Homo sapiens: one gene and its partners. The protein of the gene in region 2 interacts with the protein of the main gene of each other region in a biochemical or structural test. Each region holds a gene or a part of one and is shown on either strand. Other genes may lie near its edges.

What was found.
Region 1: the proteins of GOLPH3L (region 2) and FAM20B form a complex in vitro, tested with the Homo sapiens proteins (one study listed by BioGRID).
Region 3: the proteins of GOLPH3L (region 2) and CANT1 form a complex in vitro, tested with the Homo sapiens proteins (one study listed by BioGRID).
Region 4: the proteins of GOLPH3L (region 2) and GALNT6 form a complex in vitro, tested with the Homo sapiens proteins (one study listed by BioGRID).
Region 5: the proteins of GOLPH3L (region 2) and PGAP4 form a complex in vitro, tested with the Homo sapiens proteins (one study listed by BioGRID).
Region 6: the proteins of GOLPH3L (region 2) and C1GALT1 form a complex in vitro, tested with the Homo sapiens proteins (one study listed by BioGRID).
Region 7: the proteins of GOLPH3L (region 2) and GOLIM4 form a complex in vitro, tested with the Homo sapiens proteins (one study listed by BioGRID).

What each region holds. Positions count from the first base shown.
Region 1 is NC_000001.11:179,063,894-179,067,393, reverse strand, and holds part of FAM20B (glycosaminoglycan xylosylkinase), read right to left. Parts: intron 3,468-3,500; coding exon 3,296-3,467; intron 3,090-3,295; coding exon 2,898-3,089; intron 595-2,897; coding exon 535-594; intron 1-534. UniProt on the Homo sapiens protein: Responsible for the 2-O-phosphorylation of xylose in the glycosaminoglycan-protein linkage region of proteoglycans thereby regulating the amount of mature GAG chains.
Region 2 is NC_000001.11:150,662,655-150,666,154, forward strand, and holds part of GOLPH3L (Golgi phosphoprotein 3-like), read right to left. Parts: intron 1,110-3,500; coding exon 978-1,109; intron 1-977. UniProt on the Homo sapiens protein: Phosphatidylinositol-4-phosphate-binding protein that may antagonize the action of GOLPH3 which is required for the process of vesicle budding at the Golgi and anterograde transport to the plasma membrane.
Region 3 is NC_000017.11:78,996,265-78,999,764, forward strand, and holds part of CANT1 (soluble calcium-activated nucleotidase 1), read right to left. Parts: intron 2,023-3,500; exon of another isoform or gene 1,884-2,022; intron 1,700-1,883; 5' UTR 1,576-1,699; exon of another isoform or gene 1,381-1,575; 5' UTR 1,359-1,380; coding exon 728-1,358; intron 1-727.
Region 4 is NC_000012.12:51,356,907-51,360,406, reverse strand, and holds part of GALNT6 (polypeptide N-acetylgalactosaminyltransferase 6), read left to right. Parts: intron 1-1,074; coding exon 1,075-1,275; intron 1,276-2,145; coding exon 2,146-2,277; intron 2,278-2,956; coding exon 2,957-3,058; intron 3,059-3,500. UniProt on the Homo sapiens protein: Catalyzes the initial reaction in O-linked oligosaccharide biosynthesis, the transfer of an N-acetyl-D-galactosamine residue to a serine or threonine residue on the protein receptor. May participate in synthesis of oncofetal fibronectin.
Region 5 is NC_000009.12:101,480,674-101,484,173, forward strand, and holds part of PGAP4 (GPI-N-acetylgalactosamine transferase PGAP4), read right to left. Parts: intron 834-3,500; exon of another isoform or gene 690-833; intron 53-689; exon of another isoform or gene 1-52. UniProt on the Homo sapiens protein: Golgi-resident glycosylphosphatidylinositol (GPI)-N-acetylgalactosamine transferase that catalyzes the N-acetyl-beta-D-galactosamine transfer from an UDP-N-acetyl-alpha-D-galactosamine to the 4-OH-position of the first mannose of the glycosylphosphatidylinositol (GPI) of a GPI-anchored protein (GPI-AP).
Region 6 is NC_000007.14:7,234,544-7,238,043, reverse strand, and holds part of C1GALT1 (glycoprotein-N-acetylgalactosamine 3-beta-galactosyltransferase 1), read right to left. Parts: intron 3,483-3,500; exon of another isoform or gene 1,665-3,482; intron 1,659-1,664; exon of another isoform or gene 413-1,658; intron 1-412. UniProt on the Homo sapiens protein: Glycosyltransferase that generates the core 1 O-glycan Gal-beta1-3GalNAc-alpha1-Ser/Thr (T antigen), which is a precursor for many extended O-glycans in glycoproteins.
Region 7 is NC_000003.12:168,033,425-168,036,924, forward strand, and holds part of GOLIM4 (Golgi integral membrane protein 4), read right to left. Parts: coding exon 3,412-3,500; intron 1-3,411. UniProt on the Homo sapiens protein: Plays a role in endosome to Golgi protein trafficking; mediates protein transport along the late endosome-bypass pathway from the early endosome to the Golgi.

The DNA of each region.
Region 1 (3,500 bases), about 28 Mb from region 2:
ACCTCAGGTGATCCACCCACCTTGGCCTCCCAAATTGCTGGGATTACAGGAGTGAGCCACTGTGCCTGGCCAAAATAAATTATTATTTATGGAAAAAGTTACTTTTGGTTTAGACAATTTCAAACTGAAATATGTAAACCCCAGGTGGTATGTGATGGGTGAGTGAGAGGAGTTAAAACCACAAGGTAACCAGGTGTAGTAACCAGGCATACAGATTTTACTCCTTTTTTTTTTTTTGGCAGTGGGGTGGGGAGTGTGGGTGATTATATTCTGCTATTAAACCAAACATGTATTACTGTATACATACAATCTTCTATTCATACAAAATTTGAGATGAATTCTGAGCTTTGGGTTATCTGCCTTCACCTTTCCCTGATATCCCATTTCAGGATGTCCAGAGGTTCTAGGTTGGAAAAGTATGAAAAGCACTGCTCAGGTATCAGAAAGTTTGAGGGCCAAGAAAATGGATGTACTGTTACCTGAGCCTGGAAAAGAAGGCAATGCAGGCACATGTATTTGCTGTGCATAACTTACATGCAACACTGATAGAGAGGGGCAAGAATGCTTCTTTCATCCAGCGAGGGGTTCCCAAAGCTGAAAATTAAATTAAAACTTAGTGAATTAGGTGGAAGTACTGTTCTCTTCTTAGCATCAAAGCAATAGCAAATTCTATATGAAACTCAAATGTGATCCTAGATAATTTCACGCTCCAGCAGCTCAAATCACTTAAATTGAAAACAAGCGGGGCATGACCAATTAGACACAGGATCCCTAACAGCCTGTACTAAAATATCTGACAACAAATATACTCATTTACAAGGGACATTTTCCTGCCAAGATATCACAAGGTGCTGGAGCATAACTATGGTAAACACAGTGCGGAGTTCACAGACCAAAGGGAGAACTTGAAGACCCCTAAGCCTGCAAAGGTTTTAAGGACCAGAGAGAAATAAAAGCCATTTATATTAGATTCCCACAAACAAGCAGATGACCATTACTTGTAAAAAGAAGTCACACTTATTCTACTCCCAAATTAGCAATATCCTATTCCCTACAAGTAAGTATAAGTACAGATTCAAATTGGAAAAACTGTTCACACAGGCTGAGGAAACTGATTCACAGCAGATGCAAAAATTACCTTAGCAGCAATTCAGAGTTAGAAAAGGAGAACTGATTCTGGAAAACTGTCAACCTTTCAATCTTTCCAGAGGCTCACCTTAATAGCTAGAGTCTGGTAGCCCTTAGTACAGTGTAGGTCCTCCAGTAATTCAAGGCAAAGGCAACTGCTATGGTCTGAATGTTTGTGTCCCCCTCAAATTCGTAATCCCTGGTACAACAGTCCAACAGTATTAAGAAGTAGGGCCTTTGGGAGATGATTAAGTTACGAGGGAAGAGCCCACATGAACGGGATTAGTGCCCTTATAAATGAGGCCAGAGGGAGCGTGTTTACCTCTTCTGCCATATGAGGACACATAGAAGGCACCATCTGAGAAACAGGCCCTCACCAGACACTGAATCTGCTGGCACCTTCATCTTAGAGTTCCCAGCCTCCAAAACTGTAAGCAATACATTTCTGATGCTTATGAATTACCCAGTCTAAGGGATTTTGTTATAGCGGCCCGAGTGGACAAAGCAACTATTTTGATATACACCAAATATCAAGTATCATGTGTATCACAGGATGAGTGCTATGTGCTTTGCTGTAATGGGGTAGAGGGAGAGGCAGTGTTTGCTGGTTTTTCATTTTCTGTGGCCATCACCATCTTTCACAAAGCATGAGGCGCCTGGTGTTCAGTATAAGATGGTGGCATCATTAGCAAATGCTGCCCAAGCACTCTTTGCTGAGGAGCCATGTCTTAGCTTATTTCCAACAACCAATGTTAACAGTAGTGACCTAGGGCCTGGAAAATTCTGTACTCCAAGGAAGCGTTCTATTTAGTAAATATTTATTAAATGCAACTAAAAGTGTGGCACTACACCTGTAATCCCAGCACTTTGAGAGGTCGAGGCAAGCAGAGCACTTGAGGTCAGGAGTTCAAGACCAGCCTGGCCAAAATGGCGAAACCCTGTCTCTACTAAAAATACAAAATTAGCGAGTGCCTGTAGTCCCAGCTACTCAGGAGGCTGAGGGTGGAGAATCGCTTGAACCCAGGAGACAGAAGTTGCAGTGAGCTGAGATTGTGCCACTGCACTCCAGCCTGGGCAACAGAGCAAAACTCCGTCTCAAAAAAACTTAAAAAAAAAAAGTGTGGCACTAAACCGGCCACCACAGAGAATGCAGAATATGAAATGGAAATACAATGTGCTCTCCAAATAGCTCAGGCCTAAAAAAATAAGGACATTCTATTTATTCAAAATGAATAAACATTTTTTATTCAAGATAAAAGTAACTTGTTGTTATATATAAAATCCACACTAGGCAACAGCTCTTCTTCCCATGACAGCAAAAGTATGGACCTAGACAAACACAAAAATAGCAAAACATCCTACCAAATAAATTAATTTTTTAATTGCAGGAACCTTTGGATAGAATAAATTTAACGACAAATTCCACACTCTATTACATCTGTATTTCTCAAGCTTCTAAACACCAAATATCATAGCCAAGAAAGAACGATGTAGGTAGTAACAAATGAATAACCCTGGTTTTCCAGTTGTCTGAGAAGAGGCTCATAGAGTCTTAGACTCCTTGGAAGAACCACTTTTCCATTTTTTGAAGTACTGAGATCCCTGAGAGTGGAGAGAAGGACAGGTACCAATAGCAAAGACTCCAAGTGGAAAAAAGAAGGATGTTGCCTATCAATTGCATTCTGGATATTCTCCAGGATGCTCTGGAAAATGCCCTTCTTTCATATACAGAAACCCCTCCCTGACAAGGACAGTCCTGCTGGTCTCACCTTTTGGCATTATCAAGAAGGATGAGCATACTAGCGCCTTCATCATCTTGAAAGCTCTCATAGTGATGGCGGTCAGCATTGCCAATCAGGTAATCAAAGACAGCTGTGTCAATGATGTCCAAGAGGCGCGGGCCAGAGTCATAAGGGGACGTTTTCTTCACAGCATCACAGTAGCTCTCATCATACTCCCACCTGGAGACAAGCAGCATCACAGCACTGAGTGACAACACTGTACCTGGCACTGTTACACACAAAGAGAAGACAGAGTTCCTACCTACCGGTTTGCCCCTGACTCCACAGTTCTTTTCACTCTTGGACAGAACTGCTGGCTCCTTTACAGAGTTGGCACCTGGCTAGGCACAGGGGAGAATTAAGTAATGGCTCATAGGAGCATTTACCTGGCCAATTTGCCTTCTCGGTAAGTCCTGCCCCATGGGTGACGGTGCTTCTGCAGAGGCCACACATCTGGAAGCCAAAGTGTGACAGATCCCTCCATTATGTCTCCATCAGCACAAGCTGGTTCTGTTTCTCGGCAGTAATAGCACTTCCCATAAAAACAAGTATTGTTTCCTAAAGGACAGAAAGGAGCCAAATACACTTAAG
Region 2 (3,500 bases):
ACTTGGATGTTAAGAAATGGAGAAGTAAGGAAACAGTGTATAGTCAGAGAAGCAAGAGAATAAGATAATAACAAAGGCCAATAATGAAGAAAGTTTCAAAGTGATAAAAAGTGTCAAATGACACATATAGGTTAAAAGAGAAAAATAAATCAAAGACTGAAAAGAAGCTGGTGATACCTAAGAATGTAGTTTAAGTGGAGTGCTTAGGATGATAAAGAAGTTGTGAGTGGAAAAATTCAGTAAGAAAATGGATACAGGAGTATGGTTGGAAAGGACTTGCAGTAAATGGAAGGAAACAGAATATTATTGGAGAATAACCAGGGTTAATCAATGACTGACCTGACCCATATGAGTCCCTCTCCCTACATCATACTCTATTTCGTAATTTTTTTTTTTTAGAGACGGAGTCTTGCACTGTCCCCCAGGCTGGAGTGCAGTGGCGGGATCTTGGCTCACTGCAAGCTCCACCTTCCGGGTTCACGCCATTCTCCTGCTTCAGCCTCCCGAGTAGCTGTGACTACAGGCGCCCGCCACAATGCCCCGCTAATTTTTTTTTTAAATATTTCTCGTAGAGATGGGATTTCACCGTGTTAGCCAGGATGGTCTCAATCGCCTGACCTCATGATCCGCCCGCCTCGGCCTCTCAAAGTGCTGGGATTACAAGCGTGAGCCACTGTGCCCGGCTATTTCATAATGTTATAGCTATAGATATAGGAGGAATTTAATCAACAGCATCCTGAGTATGATTTTTCTGCATAAAAAAGGAAGACAAAACCAGGAGCTTCCTATAACTCTTTGGACTATGGATACTTTGATTTCTCCCTCTTGCAATAGGGTAATTAACCTGTTTAGACAATGGAACTGCTGAGTCAGTGATATTTATTTTATCTTACTACTCAAATCTTTCTATTCTTCCCAAATGTACTGTTGGTATTTGCCTTTCCATAAGCCATGGACGTTCACAGAGGATTCAGTACCTTTCTGTCTAGTAGTCGCTTCTTACGCATGGTCGGGGGTTCCAGATAGATTCGACCCCGCATGGCCAGCTCTATCAGGATGCCCCCTCGCAGGCCTGATGATATGCAGTCATTCCAGAAAGATGTGTACCCCTAGGAAAGGAGAAAAGAGAAGAGAAAGAATGTTTTGAGAGGAATACTGACTTCCAGCAGGCACCCTAAGAACAGGCCGCTTTGTTGTGATTCGTTTCACATCATACTACATGAACTCAAAGTATAGAGTAAGAGGATGTTTCTTTAATCCTCTTAAACACCCCCAAATATGATTTTCTGTCTGACTTCAAGATCTTTAGTGAATTTCCATGGTTTGCTGTTAGTCAATAAATGATGTGCAATTTTTTTTTTTGAGACAGGGTCTCGCTTTTTCCCCCAGGCTGAAATGCAGTGGCATGATCATGGCTCACTGCAGCCTTGACCTCCTGGGCTCAAGCAATCCTTCCACCTCAGCCTCCTGAGTAGCTGGGACTACAGGTATGTGCCACCATGCCTGGCTGTTTTTAAAAAAAATTTTTTTGTAGAGACAAGGTCTTGCTATGTTGCCTACGCTGGTCTCGAACTCCTGGCCTCAAGCTATCCTCCCACCTTGGCCTCCGAAAGTGTTGGGATTACAGACATGAGTGACTGCACCTGGTTTGACATGCAAAATTTTAATTTTTGAGGAGAATTTTGGCTTTTTTGAAGTCTGTTTCCATGACACAAAATTTCAGAGTGGGGTAAAATAAGTCAGAAAAAAGTAAAAAGCATTTGAGCTTTTAATCCTCCTAGATATGTATTAATTTGAAGTTCTTTTTTCTTTTTTTTGAGATGGAGGCTTGCTCTGTCGCCCAGGCTGGAGTGCAGTGACGTGATCTTGGCTCACTGCAACCTCCGCCTCCCAGGTTCAAGCGATTCTCCTGCCTCAGCCTCCTGAGTAGCTGGGATTACAGGTGTGCACTGCCACACCCAGCTAATTTTTGTATTTTTAGTAGAGACGGGATTTCACTATGTTGGTCAAGCTGGTCTCAAACTCCTGACCTCGTCATCCACCAGCCTCAGTCTCCCAAAGTGCTGGGAATACAGGAGTGAGCCACCGTGCCCAGCCAATTTGAAGTTCTTTTGATGGGAGGTATAATAGAAACCCACTGTCATTAAGTGCCTTGGTTATGTTACTTAAACTTTCTGAAGTACATTGTCCTCATCTATAAAATGCAGACACCAATATATATTTTCATAAGATTGTTATGAGGGTTACATGAGATACAATATATAAGAAAGCATTTAGTATAGTGCCTGGCATATAGCAGGCACTTAAAATGTTAGCTCCCCTTCCCTTTGTATAGGGAATATACGTATAAGAGAGCCACTGGTATTGTCTAACAGCAGTAACGTTTAATTACTAATGTCTATTGAATACTTATTATATACTAGATATGTGCTAATACTTATTATGTACTAGATTTGTGCTAAGCTTTTTACATGCATTATCTGATTATATCTTCACAACAACCCTATAAAGGAAGTACTACTACTACCCACACATTAAAGATGAGAAAACTAAGGCTTACAGAGGTTATACAGCATAACAGAGGTCACGAAGCTAAATAGAGAAATTTTTAAGTGGTTGTTTTTTTGGTGGTGTTTTACTGATAGATCATAGTTGTGCATATTTTGGGGTTACTTTTTTTTTTTAAGAGACAGGCGGGGTCTTGCTCCATTATCCAGGCTGAAATGCAGTGGGGCCATCATAGCTCACTGTAGACTTGAACTCCAGGGCTCAAACAATTGTCCTGCCTCAGCCTCCCAAGTAGCTCAGACTACAGGCATGAGACACTGCACCTAGCTATAATAACTATTTAAAAAATTTTTTAATTCAATTTTCCTCTTTATTGGCTTGGAAGTTATGTACTTTTAGAAGTTATCCTTGAAATTTTAACATGCATGATACATTAATTTAAAATTAACATAAAACCTAAATTTTAAATATTAATATTTTAACCACTCTTTTAGTTGTCCAGTATTTTTTTTTAGCCTCATAAATTAGATATCATCATCATCATTATTATTTTATACAGGTAGCACTTGTTTAGATTTACACAGGTGCTTACGAATTTCTTTGCTCACCGTTCCTTCCTGTATCTCAGACTTCCTTTCTGGCACCATTTTTCTTCTTCCTAAAGTAGAATTTCCTTAAGTGAAAGTCTGTTGGAGGCAGTTTCTATTTTGCTTATCTGAAATGTCTTTGTATTTCACCATCATCCTTGAAAGATAGTTTCTCTGGACATAAAATTCCAGGTTGATCATTCCAGGTTATCACATTGAAGATAGTATGCCCTCTTCTTCCAGCTTCTAATATAGCAGTGAGAAATCTATCTTTCTTATTGATTGTGGTTTTTTTGTAGGTGGTGTATCTTTTCTTTGGTCCTTTAAGATCTTCTCTTTTGGTGTTTTGCAGTTTTACTATAACATGACTGTGCATGAATTTATTTATTCTGTTTGGTATATGTT
Region 3 (3,500 bases), on a different chromosome or scaffold from region 2:
CATTTAGCTTTCTAGAAGGTGGGGATCCACCGCCAGCTCAGACAAACGGAGCTCAGAGGAGCTGGCAGCTCCTCTGCCAGCGTCCTTGGCACCTCCCCAGCTCCTCTCTGGAGGAAGACACTGGCCACCGTGCCTCCCCAAAGCCTGTCCCTGCCCTGTGGAAGCAGCACCTCCTTTCTGGTGAACAAAAAGGCTGGCATCAGGCTCCACTCCAGGGGGGTTGGCACAGCTCACACATGCCCTCCCCCTGCTGGGGTTCAGGGAGAGGAGGGCTGGGCAGCAGTTTACCCTTCAGTAACATGAAACCAAAGTCTGGGTTTTGAGTGAGAACCATCTGTCCCCATGGCTTTCAGGGCAAGGCTCCTGGTAGGCACATCCTAGCGTGGTCTTGAGAACCTTTGAAGGTGTAAAAAGGGCGTGTTCCCAGAGGCTCCGAGAGCAGCAGCGGATACAGCCGAAAACATCTTGGAGAGATTCCCCACGTCTCCCACAGGCCTCTAGCGATAAGCTCTTCCTCCTAGAAACTGCTCAGTGTGAAGTGACAGTAGGCTATGCTCCTGGCTAAGGGTAAGGGGGCCGCAGGTCAGAGCAAGAGGGAGACGTGCTCCCTCACCACATCCCTGGCTTCTAGGTGTGTGAATTCTTTACCATGTGCCTGTGTTTGCCAGCCAGGCCCTGAGCTCCCACTCCCCACCCACACCTCCATAAAACCTCAGGGTCCAGTTACCTTTCTCCACGGTGCCGTCGCCGTCGGACAGAATCACCCAGGGCACGGCTTTGCTGCCTTCGATCTGGTAGACGACCCCCGTCCGGTCATCCACGGAGTAGAGTTTCCCATTGAAAACAATCAGGTCGGATAGCTCCATGCCTCTCCCCTTCTCCGCCAGGTGGGACTCCAGGACCCCATGGTCTTTGTCCCATTCCACGGCCACCTTGTCCCCACTGTCTGACAGGGTCAGGTAGCCCTTTTTCAGGTAACTGAACCAGGTGTTTTCCTCTTGGGCCCTTGACTCTGTGTCCAGGTCTGCGATAACTGCGATTCGATACCGAATCCCAGCCGGTGTCCTTTGTGGGGGAGACAGGGGGTAGGTGTCATTGTACCAGTTGGCGGGCGCCTGGCCGAGCCTCCAGTTGTGTGCATTGTGGGTGGGGGGCCTGCCGGGGGCCGGGCGGTGGGAGCAGAGCAGCCAGAGGATGGCAGCACCCACAAAGAACGTCAGGATCACCTTCCAGCGGGGGCGGAAGCGGGGGTCCGCGGCCTTGGTCATGGACGCCAGCACAGGAAGGCCCCCCACACTGATCCGGAGGGAGTGCATAGACTCATTCCATTCCGGGTGCTCAGACAGCTGCACGGGCATCAGCGTGACAGACAGGCGGGACCTGCACAGCCAGGGAGGGAGGAGAGGAGTCAGCGCCTCCGCAAGCCCAGTCACATCTTAGTTCCGGAAGCTGCAGGCGCTGGAGGCTGACTTTTCCAGAAGAAACAGTATTTCACTACTCTGTGGCCATTCTTACTCCCTTGGCTTAATGAATTCCCGACTCTAGATTCCCGACTCTAGCAGTATCTTTGCTTACTTTCATTCGGCAAGACGTGAAGTCTTTCCACAGCAAAATTACTCCATCTCCCCTGTCCCAGCTGGCAACGTGGGAAGCTGAGTGAGGAAGGAAGTTCCATGCAGGCTGGTGCTCTGTGGTCCCTCTAAAGAGAGAAGCGCAGGAGAGTCAGGTGGGAGGGGAAGGCTGACGGGGTGAAGTGGGATAGGATCATAGACAGGGTACAGGTCTGTATTTTACTCAAATGCCACCTCATCCAGGAAGCCCTCCCTGACTGCCCTGCTGCAGACATCACCCTCCGTCCCTGGGTCCTTGGCCCTTGTCCCCACCTGACGTTAGAGTATTGTATACAGTTATCGGTTTGTTTGTTTCTGTCTCCACCTCTGTATCCTGGCTCCTAGAACAGTGCCTGGCCTGGAGCAGACAGATGTGCAGTAAAGGAGTCTCCACTTCCTCTGGGTTAGGCTCCTGCAGCATTGGAATACCAAACACATCCAAACCAAATAAAAACACTCCTTCTTTTTCGTATCTGTTGTTGTTTTTGGCAGTGTCTGTCCCCTGGCGCCTTTCTATTAATGCAAATGACTGCAGGGACCAGAGTCTGCGCTGCCCTGACTGCCTGGAGGCCAGCGTGTCTGTGCCTTGGCGCCAAAGAACTGCTCGGCTCACTGCGGGGCCTGGCTCGGCCGCAGGCCTCTCCCAGCTCACCCTCCACCCCAGGCGTGGCTCTGTGGCAGAGCCCCAGGGTCAGGGTGCTGGTGGCGGCCAGGAACTGCAGCCCTTCACTGCTGTCGCCAAGCCCACTTCCCGGGCATACAGCATGATGGCTCAGTGCAGCCATGGGGCACCAGGCCCACGTCTGCGCCGCCTTGGTGAGAGCTGCCTGTCTCTGGACAGCCGCCAAGTGCCACAGTGGGGCGTGGGGAGACAGCTCCCGGTGCTTCGATCGAGAACACTGGCCCTGGGCAGAGGTTCCATATCTCTGCCCTCCAACTATAGCTCAGTGAATCCCGGCCTGAGAAGCTTCCCTGGCTGGGTCCTCCTTGAGAAAACAACAAAGCAGCAAACATGTGCCTTTATGGGCAGACGCTGTCCTCCCTGCCAGGGCGCCTGGGAAGGGCTTGGGGACTCCAGTGGCTCCGTGCAATTCTGGGCCCCAAATATGTGGACCACGAGGCCCTGGTGCACGGCAGCCAGCAACAGACACCCCCACCAGAGACACCCCCTTCTCCACGCCGCAGCCTGCTGGGCTGAGAAGATACAAAAACAGGGTGACAATTCCACATGGAACTTTCGGACAGTCCTAGGTTTTAGCCCCAGGGTGAGGTTCAAGGAGTGAACAAGGCACATACGTGGAACCTGCTGCTCAGAGTGATCCTCCTAACAGCACAGGGGGGCTGCCAGCAGTTCCTCCAGGCCCGCAGGGAAGACTCCATGCTCCCTTTAAGGGGCAGGCCTCTCAGGACCCCCTGAGGTGGTCACAGGGCTGATCACCGGGGCCTTCCCGGCAGCAGGGCTGGGGTTCCCCGTGCTGGACATCCTCCTCTGACTGCATCCAGGCCCTGCCCCTTTTCTAGTCCCAAGGCCTCAAAACCCCAGCCAGGCCCAAGAAGTCTCCACTGAGCTCGAATTACTCTATCTTACCTGCTATGCCAATCCCGCCTACATTTCTTTTTTTGTTTTTCTGAGATAGGGCCTCGCTCTGTTGCCCAGGCAACAGTGATCACGCTCACTGCAGCCTCAACCTCTGAGGCTCAAGCGATCCTCCCACCTCAGCCTCCCAAGTAGCTGGGACTACAGGCGTGTGCCACCACGCACAGCGAATTTTTTTTTTTTTTTTTTTTTTTTTTTGGAGACAGAGTTTTCCTCTTATTGCCTAGGCTGGAGTGCAATGGCACGATCTCGGCTCACTGCAACCTCCGCCTCCTGGGTTCAAGTGATTCTCC
Region 4 (3,500 bases), on a different chromosome or scaffold from region 2:
AAGATAGAAACAGGTTAGTATGTTCACAACTAGGGCTAGAAAAAAAAAACAGATGAGTAACCAGTCATCATCCTTTTTCTGGAAAAATCAGGCTCCCCTTCCCAGTTCAAAGGACACATGCCCTGGTAACCTTTGAAGTTTCCCTACCTATGTACAATAAGCCCTTCATAACAGTCAGAGAAGATGGTGGCCCCAACTCTGGTGGACCCCAGAACTCTGAGAGATTCCAGGAATTAGGCAAATCAGGATTAGGTCAGGAAGCAAGGATTGCCTCTCCATGAAACCTACACAAATCTCCATGCCATGGAAAAGTAATTAGTAAGTAGATGAGCTCATTTATGAAGTCACCTCTCACGGTGCCTGATGCATATTAAGCACGTAATTGATGCCTGCTGTTACTATAACGATTATGTATTTCTGTTGCTGCCACACTAAAATGAATAACAACATACTTTCCCACCTAAAACCCAAAAGAAGAAACCAGTGGGAGGGATGTCTTCAGCCAGCCCACCAGCATAGAAAAGGGTCACCTGCCAGTCACCCCAACTCCCAGCGGCCCAATCCTAGGCTCCTCCATGAGCCTCTGACCTCTGTTCACCTTCCTAGGCAGCCAGTGTGCTAAGGGCCCAAGTGACTACCACTAGCCACCTAGCAGCCAACTATCCTTGCTATTAATTAACAGACTGATGCTCTGGTTTTTATCACCTGAGGGAGCTGATAAACTCACATTTCCAGGTCAAAAAGCCAAGTGATCAGAGCTCAGAGTAGGTATACAGGCACAGGTAACAAAAATTAACCAGCAGGCTTTTCCCTAAAGTGGGCCCTGGTAAACACAGGACCCTGCAGTCTCCCTGTGCTTAAGTCAGAGTGAACCAACATCAGAAAGCCTGGGATCGTGTAGTCATGGCCTAGGAAGAAGCCTGGTCGGTATCCTTTTTCCCAGGGAGAGAGAGCAGCATTTGCCCAAGTCCTTGGACCTGGGGTCTGGTGCTCTGGGAATAGAATAGAGCTGCTTATGGGGAGACTGTCTCACCTAGCCCACTGAAGGCCTCATCCTGTCTCCTCTTACATCAGGTGTGGCAGTGTGGGGGCCAGCTGGAGATCATCCCCTGCTCTGTCGTAGGCCATGTGTTCCGGACCAAGAGCCCCCACACCTTCCCCAAGGGCACTAGTGTCATTGCTCGCAATCAAGTGCGCCTGGCAGAGGTCTGGATGGACAGCTACAAGAAGATTTTCTATAGGAGAAATCTGCAGGCAGCAAAGATGGCCCAAGAGGTGAGAGGAAATGGTTCTCGGAGAGGTTTAGATGAAGAGAAGTACGGCCCCCAGACCCTGTTCATGGGCCTAATGGCTGGGACCCACCTCATCTCTACCATCTGGCGCCTCCCTTCACCCTCAGGGACCTGTGAGCTAGAGCCCAGGAGAAGGCCACAAGGCACATAGGTTTCAAAAGCTAGAGAATGTTGTCCCTACGCATAGAGTCTCTGCATCCCTTTGGAGGGGAAGGGAGGGAAAGGAGATTTGGAGGAAAAGCCTCTTACGGAGGCTTTGGAGGCTTTGGAGGAATGGCTCTGAGAGCCTCGGCACTGGGGAGTGGGACATAATTGTCTGGGGAGTCACAGGAGATGGACCGATAAGCAGGGGACTCCAAAGCTAAGGCGGGGTTTTTGGGATTGGATGTGAGGGCTGGGCCAGTATCTTTAACAGGTCCTGAGTGGGAATGAACATGAGAGACAGTAGCCCCAGGCGCTCCATGCTATCTGCACTACTTCAGCCCAGACAGGAAGGTCAAAGACTGGTGGAACTGGCTGGGTGTGGTGGCTCACGCCTGTAATCCCAGCACTTAGGGAGGCCGAGGCGGGCAGATCACCTAAGGTGAGGGGTTTGAGACCAGCCTGGCCAACATGGTGAAACCTCATCTCTACTAAAAATACAAAAATTAATTGGGCGTGGTGGTGCGCGACTGTAGTCCCAGCTACTCAGGAGGCTGAGGCAGGTGAATCGCTTGAACCCAGGAGGGGAAGGTTGCAGTGAGCCGAGATTGCACCACTGCACTCCAGCCTGGGCAACAGAGTGAGACTCCCTCTTAAAAAAAAAAAAAAAAACTGGTGGAACTGATCCTTAGGGGGCTGGCTTGATTGACAGAAATCCTTCGGTGACATTTCGGAACGACTGCAGCTGAGGGAACAACTGCACTGTCACAACTTTTCCTGGTACCTGCACAATGTCTACCCAGAGATGTTTGTTCCTGACCTGACGCCCACCTTCTATGGTGCCGTAAGTCTTGAGAACCAACCTGCCTGCCCATCACCACAGCACCCCTTGGAGAAGTTCAAGACCACTGACCCCACAGATGGATGACAAACAAGAATTGAGTTTTGCCCTGCACCCTCCTTTATCCAGGAGGAGGACTGAGAGGCCACGTTGGGGCTTCTAGAGATAGCAAAAAACCTTATAAAGGGCAAAACAACCCACAAGCAGTGGTCCTGAAACATTAGCATGCATCAGAATCACCAGGAAGGCACGGTAAAACGCTAGGGCCCATCCCCAGAGTTCCTGATTCAGAAGGACTCAGGGGAGGTCTGAAAACTTGCATTTCTCACGAGTCTCCAGGTGATGCTGATGGTCCAGGGCTCACATTTGAGAACCACTGCTTATAAGGAAACTCCCACGTGCTGAGGGCTTCTTCCAGGGACCTGGCATCCTGGGAGGTTCCCTGCCTGCCCCACAGAGGGGTTCAGTCCTGCCCTTTCCAGCCTCTGGGGCTCTGCAGCTCACTTTGCTGTTAGCTCCAGGCATGTGGGTTAACGCACAGAGGAGAGAAATGACGGGGGAAATCCAGCCATGCAAATTTGTTGCAGTTGACTGGAATTTGTTCCAGTGGGGCCCCATACCACACATGAGGAACCTCCTGACTGTGCCATCCTGCTTCCCCTCTCTGCTCACCCTTCTGCAGATCAAGAACCTCGGCACCAACCAATGCCTGGATGTGGGTGAGAACAACCGCGGGGGGAAGCCCCTCATCATGTACTCCTGCCACGGCCTTGGCGGCAACCAGGTATGCAGCCCACCCATCTCCGGAGCATCTCCTCTCCTCACCGGCTCCTTTTCTCTACCCTAAAGAGTCCTTTCCTGAGGACTGGGAGGGAGGAGATACCATCCCTGCCCTCAGGAAGCTTCCAGTCGGAGGAGAAGGCATAACACACACAAGGTCTGAATAAGGGACATCCGGAGAGAACGAGGCATCGGTGCTGGGTGTGAGAAGGGGATGGGAGGGAGGGTTGTTCATCAGAGGAGGCTTGAGGAGGCTAGCTGCTGGGGGATATTTAGGGGTGAGGGTGGAAAATTTTCCAGCACATCCCATCACCTGCACTCAACTTCTATCTTCAATGCATCCTCTGCCCAGAAGCTACCACTCTGATCCTACCACCTTCCAGTGACCCCAAAACTAGGTGCCCAGCACTAGTAAGTGAGAGGCACTGAAAACAGAGCCAGAGTGG
Region 5 (3,500 bases), on a different chromosome or scaffold from region 2:
GGACACAGGAGCTGGGATCAGATCCTTCATTCAAGATTAGATGACTGCTTTGCTGAAAATCCAACCACATGGAGTTATGTAGTCATTCAGGAGTATGTTCTTGTTTACTTTTTAAAACATTTTTTTAAAAGATTTAACCAATTGTTGCACAGTAGCCTGTGGTGTCCAATGGCACCTATAATTTATTTCACCTTACTGATCTGGTTTTAAGAAGAATGGCCAGCTGGATGTGGTGCCTGAAGCCTGTAATCCCAGCACTTTAGGAGGCTGAGGCAGGTGGATGGCTTGAGCCCAGGAGATTGAGACCAGCCTGGGCAACATGGCAAAACCTAGTCTCAACAAAAGATACAAAAATTAGCCAGGCATGGTAGCATGTTCCTGTAGTCCTAGCTACTCAGTAGGCTGAGGCAGGAGGATTGCCTGAGCCCCAGCAGGTCGAGGCCGCAGTGAGCTGTGATCGCACCACCGCACTCCAGCCTGGTTGACAGAGAAAAACCCTGTCTCAAACAAAAACAAACAAACACACAAACAAAAAAAGATAAAAGATAAATGGCCTTAGGGGAACAGATATAAAAACATAGGATTTTTCACTGCTAGTTTGGGGAAGGAGTTTTTTTACTCCCAGCCCAATCATAAGGGTGAGACAAGAGGGCTATGTCTATGTTACCACTCTGATTGTCTTTTTCCAGAATTCCAGTTGCCCATGATGTCACAGGCTGAGGCCCACACTCCAGAGACACTGTGGACTGACTGGCACCTATGAGCTGACCTAATAACAGTTACACCATTACAGCTCCGATTCTACAGAACAATACATATCCAGTTCTTATCTATGCTTTGCATGTGCTCTTTGAAACACAACCCTTCCCTAAACAGAATTCTCTACCTGTTACCATATCTAGAGTGTAGGGCTCAGGGAAGACAGTAAAGGACACAGACTCTGAGAAATGAACATGAACTAGGGCTTAGATGAATAAATGGAGCTACAACAATAGTTATATTTTAGTGCAACTTCTGAAAATTAAACTAAAGGATCCACGGGTGTGGAAGACACAATACCAGGGTGTGAGTCAGGGGATGAGTGCTCAAGAATGTTCTGTGTTTCCCAAATCCACTATATGAATGGCACGACCACTTTCCCAGGCAACTCAGTCTAAAACACTAGTTAGTTCTAACTTCTCACCTCCACGCAGTCACTTCCTAATCCCACCTCTACGGCCTCTTTTATTATGCCTCTCTTTTCCCCTCGCCTTCCCCTTGTCAAGCTTTCCTCCCTGCCACACTCTAGTTCCTCCTCAGCACCTCCAAGCCAGCTGATTGCAACAGGCTCCTAACAGAGCTTCTGACCTCCAGAATGAGCAACACAAGCCAAAAGATCTAGGTCCAATTCTCGTCCCAACACTCACTAATTTGATCAATTTGTATAAAAAAATCATTTATCTCTCTGAGCCTATTTTATTTCTCTGTGAAACAGGAAAATAAAAGATACTTCAACCAGGCGCGGTGGCTCACACCGGTAATCCCACCACTTTGGGACGCCGAGGCAGGCGGATCACGAGGTCAGGAGATCGAGACCATCCTGGCAAACATGGTGAAACGCCATCTCTACTAAAAATACAATAATTAGCTGGGTGTGGTGGCACGTGCCTGTAATCCCAGCTACTCAGGAGGCTGAGGCAGGAGAATCGCTTGAACCAGGTAGTCGGAGGTTGCAGTGAGCCAGATTATGCCACTGCACTCCAGCCTGGCAACACAGTGAGACTGTGACGATGAAGAGACAACAGCTATGATAGCCCTTTGTCAGGCATAGGACACTGTGCAAATGATGGTGATGTTTTACTTGATCAGCATCCATCTGATACTCTGAAGCATAAGTCAGAACATGGCACTCTTTTCTGTAAAACTATTCAATGATTCCCCCATGACTGTAGAATAAAGTCCAAATTATTTGCCAAGATTCTTCACAATCCAGTTCCAACTATCTTCCCAGCTGCATTTTTGCTCCTCACACTGTCTAACTCAACCATCAAGAATTAGCTCAAAAGGTACCTCTTCCAAAACCCAACCCTGACCTTTCCAACCAGAAAGAATCTCTTTTTTTCCCCTCAAGTACTGGGGCCCTTTCTATGAACTTTTCCTCCAGGGCATTCATTTGTCACTTTCTACTTCAGACTCATCTATTTATAGCTACCGCTTATTAAGGCCATACTACATATCCCAATGTTGTGCTAGACCCTTGCATCTATTTCTTCTGAACAAAATAGCAACTCTCAAAATAGCAATGGAATTAATCCCATTTAGTTGACAAAACTGATGCTACCAAGTTGCAAGAGGAAATTCAAGGACAAGGATAAATTTCAAAGCTCATGTTTTTCTATGATGCCTGTTGTCTTCCATGGCCTTGTTTATGGTCCTTGACTTACGATCTGATTGGACTCTTGAATCCTTTTTTAGTAGATTCAGTCTGATTTATCTTTGGTATCCCTCACAGACCCAGCACAGAACTATGCATAGAAGATGCTCAATGCTTGTTAAGCAAATAATTGGCTTCTTTTGACCTCTATGGGTCTCAGGTCCTCAGCTATAAAATTGGTAGTATCAAAGAGCTGGTCATATACTGTGTAGAGATCGACTTATTTGTAAATGTTTCCAGAACACTTATGTGCCAGGCACTGTTCTAAGCATCTCATCTATCGATCCTCATAAAAAGCCTCCAAGAAGTATGACTATTAAGCCCATTTTATACTTTAGAAAACTAAGTTTTTAAGCAGGGTGGCAAAACTTGAACCCAGGCAGACTGTGTCCAGAACCCACATTCTCAACCAATATGCACTACTGCCTACATAAATTTGGAGCCCAGGAAAATCAACTGAAAAACCATTAGAAATGGCAATAGACTCAAAACATGGTTGGTACCAGAATTAATATGTAAAAATAATATATAATATACATAGCAAGTATATATACACATGTACTATATATATGCATTACATATCCATATCTGTATCTATATTATCTATATTATAATGACTGCTTTCATGTACATGATCACCAATGAACTAAGGGAGTAAAAGATCCCAGTCAAAAGGGAAAAAAATAAGCAACTCAAATATCTAGAAATAAATTTCAGAAATATGCAGAATATACACACATACTACAAAATTCTACCAAAGGGTAATTAAAAAGTCATTAATAAACAGAAAAATAATGCTTAGGTGGAAAGACTTGGTAATAGAGCTCCCTTTCTCCATAATTAATCTCTATATTTAACATCTGAATTTAATTTACTTCGAGGGAGTGTCACAGTTCAACAACTAGGCACTTTAATATAAATTGGTGCAATCTTTGGAGGAAATGTTGGGGTGTTGGGGCAGTATCTATAAAAATTTTATAAGTGCATCCCCTTTGACATAACGATCCTACTTCTAGGAATCTACTCTGCAGAAATGCCAACACATGCTACCAAAGATGGATAAGAAATGTTGAGTGCTGTTTTGTAT
Region 6 (3,500 bases), on a different chromosome or scaffold from region 2:
TAGTAAGAGTTGACATTATAATCTAAATTCGTCTCAAACTGTAGTTTACTGATTAAAAGCAGCAGCATCACCTGGGAGCCTGTTAGAAATGCATAATCTTAGGCCCAGACCTACTGACTCAGAATCAGCATTTTAATAAGTTCTCCTGGTGCTTCATAGGCATGCTAAATGCTGCCTTAAATAGTCTCTGCTTGGCACTTCATAAAAGAAAGCAGCCAGTTTTTAATAGATTACTGACAGAAATTTCTCACTGCTCTGAACGAGTTTCTGAAGAGCAGGAAAGACATGCTGCTGAAGTGGCAGTTCATTTTTGAAGTTCACAATAATCCACTATTAAGAATTTCTACAAGTACCCTGAGGTGGTAAAAGGTCAAAGCACAGGAGTTGAGATTACTTTCTGATAGTCACATACCTCATTCCAAAATGTAAATCCACCAATCAAAAACAGAAGAGAACAATGGTAGACATGGGAATTCCAAGATGGTCTAGAGCAGTGCTCTTTAAACTACAGGTTTGCAAAGAAATAAGGAGCTTATACCAGAACAGAAAGCAACACATTACTTTGAAAAAGGCCTACTATCAGAACCAACCAATCAAAATGTCCACTTAACTAAGCAGTGAGCTTAAAACTGAAACTTAAAACTGTCCATTTAAGTAAGCAGTGAGCGTAAAACTGATTTACATCCTAGTGTAACCTCATTATCTTGTGCAGACAAACAGCTGACAAAGTGTCAGGCCAGGACCGCATTTTGAGTAGCACCGGTACAGAGGAAGAGCTCAATGATGAGATTCTAGATGAGTACTTCCCAAGCTATCTGTGGTGAAAGGCCAATTTTTATTTCTAAAAGAGGTCTACACTGTGTAAATAGGATAAAAATGAATTATAAGAAAAATAAAACTAAAATATAAAACAAGTCCTAAATTTTTATTTTTAGCTTCAGACAAAATTACTCCAATTACAATAAAAGTTTCTGCTTACTCCCAAATAAGCAGACATTCTTTAGTTATAGGACCAGAATGAGTCTATGAACTGACTTTCAGTAGCAATGTTCTGGGCAGTATCCTGACGAAGCATATGCTTAAAATTAAGGTCAAACAGCAAGTTACAGAAGCTTAGTCCTATGAGAAATTAACAATGGAGGCATATAATATACTAGTTAACCAACTGAGAGGGAATAATGGGAAAAGCTGGGTGGAACATAAAAATATTCTCATGTCCCAGCTGGGCACAGTGGCTCAGGCCTGTAATCCCAGCACTTTGGGAGGCTGAGGCGGGTAGATCACGAGGTCAGGAGTTCGAGACCAGCCTGGCCAACATGGTGAAACCCTGTCTCTACTAAAAAAGATACAAAAAATTAGCCAAGCGTAGTGGTGGGCGCCTGTAATCCCAGCTACTCGGGAGGCTAAGGCAGGAGAATTGCTTGAACCCGGGAGGCGGAGGTTGCAGTGAGCCGAGATCCCACCACTGCAGTCCAGCCTGGGTGACAGAGCGAGACTCCATCTCAAAAAAAATAAAAAATAAAAATTCTCATGTCCCTCTGAGTATCAAGATTCACAATCCAAAAGGACAACAGCAGACAAAATCACCCTACTTTCAGTCAGAAAGCATAGACATCTCATATCCTTGAGGAGCCCAATCTCTTGGCTATACAAATATACCAAACCTTGAATGGATAGAACAGTGAATGCAGGAATCCCCAATCTGTTTCATTCAGGTAAGACAGGTTTGTCCACCGCTGAACTTGATAAATAATTTTTCATTCACTAATTGCTTTGTACTGGGCATGGGCTGGCATAGGAGATGAAAAAAATGAGTAAGACACATTTCCTGCTGCAGAGGAATTCAGTCCATTCAGGGAGCCTGAGCCTGACACACAAACCAATAATTGCTAAATACTAAGAGATGTTATTATAGAGGTATGAACAAAGGATTCAATGTGCTGAAGGAAAATAGTGGCTAATAAATCCTACAGAGCAGTAGATAGGGACCTAGGTAGAACAAAGAGGAAGATTAAAAAATAAAGACATAATACAGAAAATAGGTTATAAGTTCACCAAAAGGAATGGTGAAGTTTGGTTGAGTGCAGGTACATGGGTATAGCTGAAGGCCTGAATCGGAAATGCACTGAGGACTGAGAGGAAAAGAGATGAAAAATGGTAAAGTAGCAGCACTGTTAGAATGTACTGACAAATCGAATTGGCTAGCATGTGAAGGCAAGCACCTACCATGATTTCTTAATTTCTGGCACAGACAGATGGTAATGAGCCATATAAAAGAAAGAATAGAGGAGGAAGAGCAACTTCTAGGAGTAGGAAGGAAAAGGAGACTCAATTTACACATGCTGAGTCTGAAGGGAGTAGACAAACTTTTAGCATACCCCACATTTTGTAGGCCACTGAGCTGGACAAGTATGTATCTAATACACATGCCTGCAGTGAGGCCTCGTACGGCTTACTATTAGTAGGGAACTCTGCCTCCAATTGATCACCTAAAGACATGTGGCTATGCTACAGAGCAAATACACAGTGACCAAACTGTTCTGTAGGAACACAGAGCACTTGCTCAGAGCTGAATTACTGTTACATAAACAATCACAAAACACGACATACTTTGTAATAGTATGTTTATGTTTGCTAGTTGATAAAATGGAACCAGGCTTTGAAATCTCACCATTCAACCTCTGCTTGAGAGGTGGTGAAGAAATAATTTACTACTGAGAAGAGAAGAGAAAAAACTGAATAGTGGACCCTCTGCATCCCAGAATTCCAATTGTTTTCAAGCTACTTATATTATTTTCTGTCAAACCGTATTTTGCATTGTGTTAATGTCACCTCACAATGTCTGGAACTGGGCTAAAGACAGTAAGAAATAGAAGGAAATTAAAATTATGCGGGTTAATGATGTCACACAGACAAACAGCTAAAGGACAGAAACTTGGAGAGAACCAACACTTAAGGGACACATAAATAACTCAACTGAGAAAATCTGGTTAGAGGTAGGAGGCTAGGAGAAAATGAAGTCTTTAGAACGCATCCTTGGTTTTTAACTTCCTTGTTCTTTGTGCCTCTTGAGGAAAAAAAAGATTAGTTCTATTAACTAATTATAAAAATATAAATCGAAACTTACATACACCTCAAGTTTCTCTAGGAAAACAAGACTTAAGCAAAAGCTATGACCAAAACAAGTAACAAAAACCAAAGACACACATATAACAAAACTGAACCTAGAAAAACATTTTCAGAAACAAATCAAATCTGAATAGTTATGCCCTTCCCCAAATCATGGGTTCTGAACTATTTCTACTTAAAAACGAATTCAAAATTAATATCTTATTCCCTAAATAAATCTGAGTTTTAGCAATTCCCTTCTCTTGAGGCAAACCAAGAATTATTTTTAATATCTGGAATATATAGCCCATTTTAATTAACAGATACAGACAGGAATATGACAAAATTTAGACTAAAATACTGCTTATGTTTACTGCTTAATAAAGTAAACC
Region 7 (3,500 bases), on a different chromosome or scaffold from region 2:
GAAACCCCGTCTCTACTAAAAAAACACAAAAAATTAGCCGGGCGTGGTGGCGGGCGCCTGTAGTCCCAGCTACGCGGGAGGCTGAGGCAGGAGAATGGCGTGAACCCGGGAGGCGGAGCTTGCAGTGAGCCGAGATTGCGCCACTGCACTCCAGCCTGGGCGACAGAGCAAGACTCCGTCTCAAAAAAAAAAAAAAAAAAAAAAAAAAAAAAAAAAAGAATGCCATTACTAATGAACATCCATGTTAGTTCAACACAGTGCCTGTTAAACAAGATACAATAAAATATTTTTAATGTATTAAAGTAGTAATTATTTGTAAACCAGCAGGACTCTTTTGTAAACATTTTTTATTGCTAATATTGAAAACCCTGAGCAGAAAAAGAAGAAATGGCTTTTTCAGAATAACCCTCCTCTAAAATTAGTTGACTCAAATCAGTTCTCCCTATAAGTTTCAGCGATCTCTATATGATCTGCACTACCTAGAAAGTGAGGAAGAAAGAGAATATAGTATATCAACAGAAACAAACGTCACTCTTTTTTTCTCTTTAACCTTCAGAAAAAAAAATCTTCTTTGGTTAGACTGCTCTCCCAAAATTGAAATAAATGTGAAATCCTATTCTTAAATTAGCAGAGATATAATTATCAAATCTGAGAAATTGGACTGTATTAATAAACTGGGGAGAAAAGTCCTTTCTCAGACATTTGAGGACAACTGGAGTTGCACATTCCACCGACATCCTCACATATCTGGCAAGTTTGACATAATACTGCCCTGGCTTTACAGAAAAATATTTCTCTAAAGAGCTCTAAGTACTTTCAAACACTTGTCATTTATCTTCACAATATCCTAGTGAGGAAGGTTAGTGCAGATAACTCCTATCTCCACCTCAGAGATGGAAAAACTGAAGATCTGAGTCACTGGAAGATTAATCCAGTAAACTGGCAGTCTGACAAGGGCAGAAAATAGAACCAACTGCCAGGCCAGTGATCTGGTCATGCTCTCTTTAGTTATTAACATAAGAGCCTGAGAAAGAATAAGAGTCCATGAAGATACTGAACCTGTCTGTTGAAGGAATACCCTGAACAGAGTGAAGAGGCTCATATATGAAGTCTACTCATATCAACTTAATTATTCCCATAACTTGGAGGAAAGTTTTCTCAGTCTTCTCTTTAATGTTAAAAACCACTTTGTGAGCAAAGGACATGAACACACACATCAAAAGAAGACACTGATATGGTTTGGCTGTGTCCCCACCAAAATCTCATCTTGAATTCCCACGTGTTGTGGGAAGAACCCGGTTAGAGGTAACTCAATCATGGGGTCAAGTCTTTCCCGTGCTGCTCTCACAATAGTGAACAAGTTTCACAAGATCTGATCGTTTTAAAAAGAGGAGTTACCCTGCACAAGCTCTCTCTCTCTGCCTGCTGCCATCCATGGAAGATGGGACTTGCTCCTCCTGGCCTTCCACCATGATTGTGAGGCTTCCCCAGCCATGTGGAATTGTAAGTCCAATTAAACTTCTTTCTTTTTTAAATCAACCAGTCTAGGGTATGTCTTTATGAGCAGCATGAAAACGGACTAACACAAACATATATGTGGCCAACAATCATACAAAAAAAAAAAAAAAACAACTCAGCATCACTGATCATTAGAGAAATGCAAATCAAAACCACAATGAGATATTATCTCACACCAGTCAGAAGAGCTATTATTAAAAAGTCAAAAATAACAGATTCTGGCGAGGTTGTGAAGAAAAAGGAATGGTTATACACTGTTGGTGGGAGTGCAGATTAGTTCAACCATCATGAAAGACAGTGTGGAGACTGCTCCAAGACCTAAAGATATAAATACCATTTGACTCAGCAAAATCCCATTACTGGGTATATGCCCAGAGGAATAGAAATCATTCCATTATAAAGACACATTCACTGCAACACTATTCACAATAGCAAAGACATGGAATCAACCTAAATGCCCACCAATTATAGACTTTGATAAAGAAAAATGTGATACATAAACACCATGGAATACTATGCAGTCATAAAAAAAGAACAAGATCATGTCCTTTGCAGGGGCATGGATGGAGCTGGGGGCCATCATCTGTAGCAAACCAACACAGGAACAGAAAGTCAAATACTACATGTTCTCACTTATAAGTGGGAGCTAAATGATGAGACACATAAGCACATAGAGGGGAACAACACACTGTACGGCCTATCAGAAGGTGGAGGGAGAGGAGCAGGAATATAGCTAATGGGTACTAGGCTAAATAGCTGGGTGATAAGATAATCTTTACAACAAACTCCCATGACACAGTTTACCTACGTAACAAACTTGCTCATGTACCCCTGAACTTAAAAGTTTAAAACAACCACTTTGTCAGAAAGATAACCATATTGCCTATTTTTTTATTACAGATGATTGGAAAAAAAAAAAACAACCTTTGTAGAAATTAGTGGTAATGGTAACTACTTCTGATGTCTCACTTATGAGATATTCTTAAGGCTTAATTTTTATAAAGAACAAGAATATAAAAAGGTGTATTATTTGACTAGCACTCATACCCGTAGGAGTGTCAAACAGGTCATTTAATTCAAATTTTGACATGCTCTGTGTAGACCTAGCACTGCTCCAAGTTAAAATATATTATTAACTTTAATATTTGAGTGGGTTGACTGTCACATAAAATCCTCATGATCATTTAACGTTCTCACCCTAACCCCCGCAAAATCCCCAACCTTGAAAAACTCAGATACTACAACTCCTTGAAGACAAATAAACCTACATGAATAAAGACAAAGCCATTAAAGCCTTTCTCAGACATACTAGCAGCGGCCAGGTGTGGTGGCTCACGCCTATAATCCCAGCACTTTGGGAAGCCAAGGCGGGCGGATCACCTGAGGTCAGGAGTTCAAGACCAGCCTGGCCAACATAGCGAAACCCTGTCTCTACTGAAAATACAAAAATTAGCCAGGCGTGGTGGCGGGCGCCTATAATCCCAGCTACTCGGGAGGCTGAGGCAGGGAGAATTGCTTGAACCCGGGAAGCGGAGGTTGCAGTGAGCTAAGATTGTGCCACTGCACTCCAGCCTGGACGACGTAGCATGACACTGTCTCAGAGAAAAAAAGAAAGAAAATACTAGCAGCAGTTCTCAAAGTTTGCTACTCAGACCAGCTAAATCAGTTAGAAATGCAAATCTTTAGGCCTCACTCCAAATTAACTAAATCAGAAACTCTGGGCCTGGGACCCAGTAATCTGTGTTTTATCACGCCCTACTGGCAATTCTGATATACTAAAATTTGAGAACTACTGCTCTCCCAGAAAAGTTGGCAATATTAAAAGCAGGTCCCCTCTTGGCAACTTGACAGAGAAAGTGACCTAACCATAGATTACCAGTTCACGCCCCTTACCTCCTGCACCTCTCGGGTTGGCTTCTCCCTTGCTGTGTTGTAACCTTGTGGAGAATGTGCCACCTGGGTCACATTTTGCTGTTCTGCTG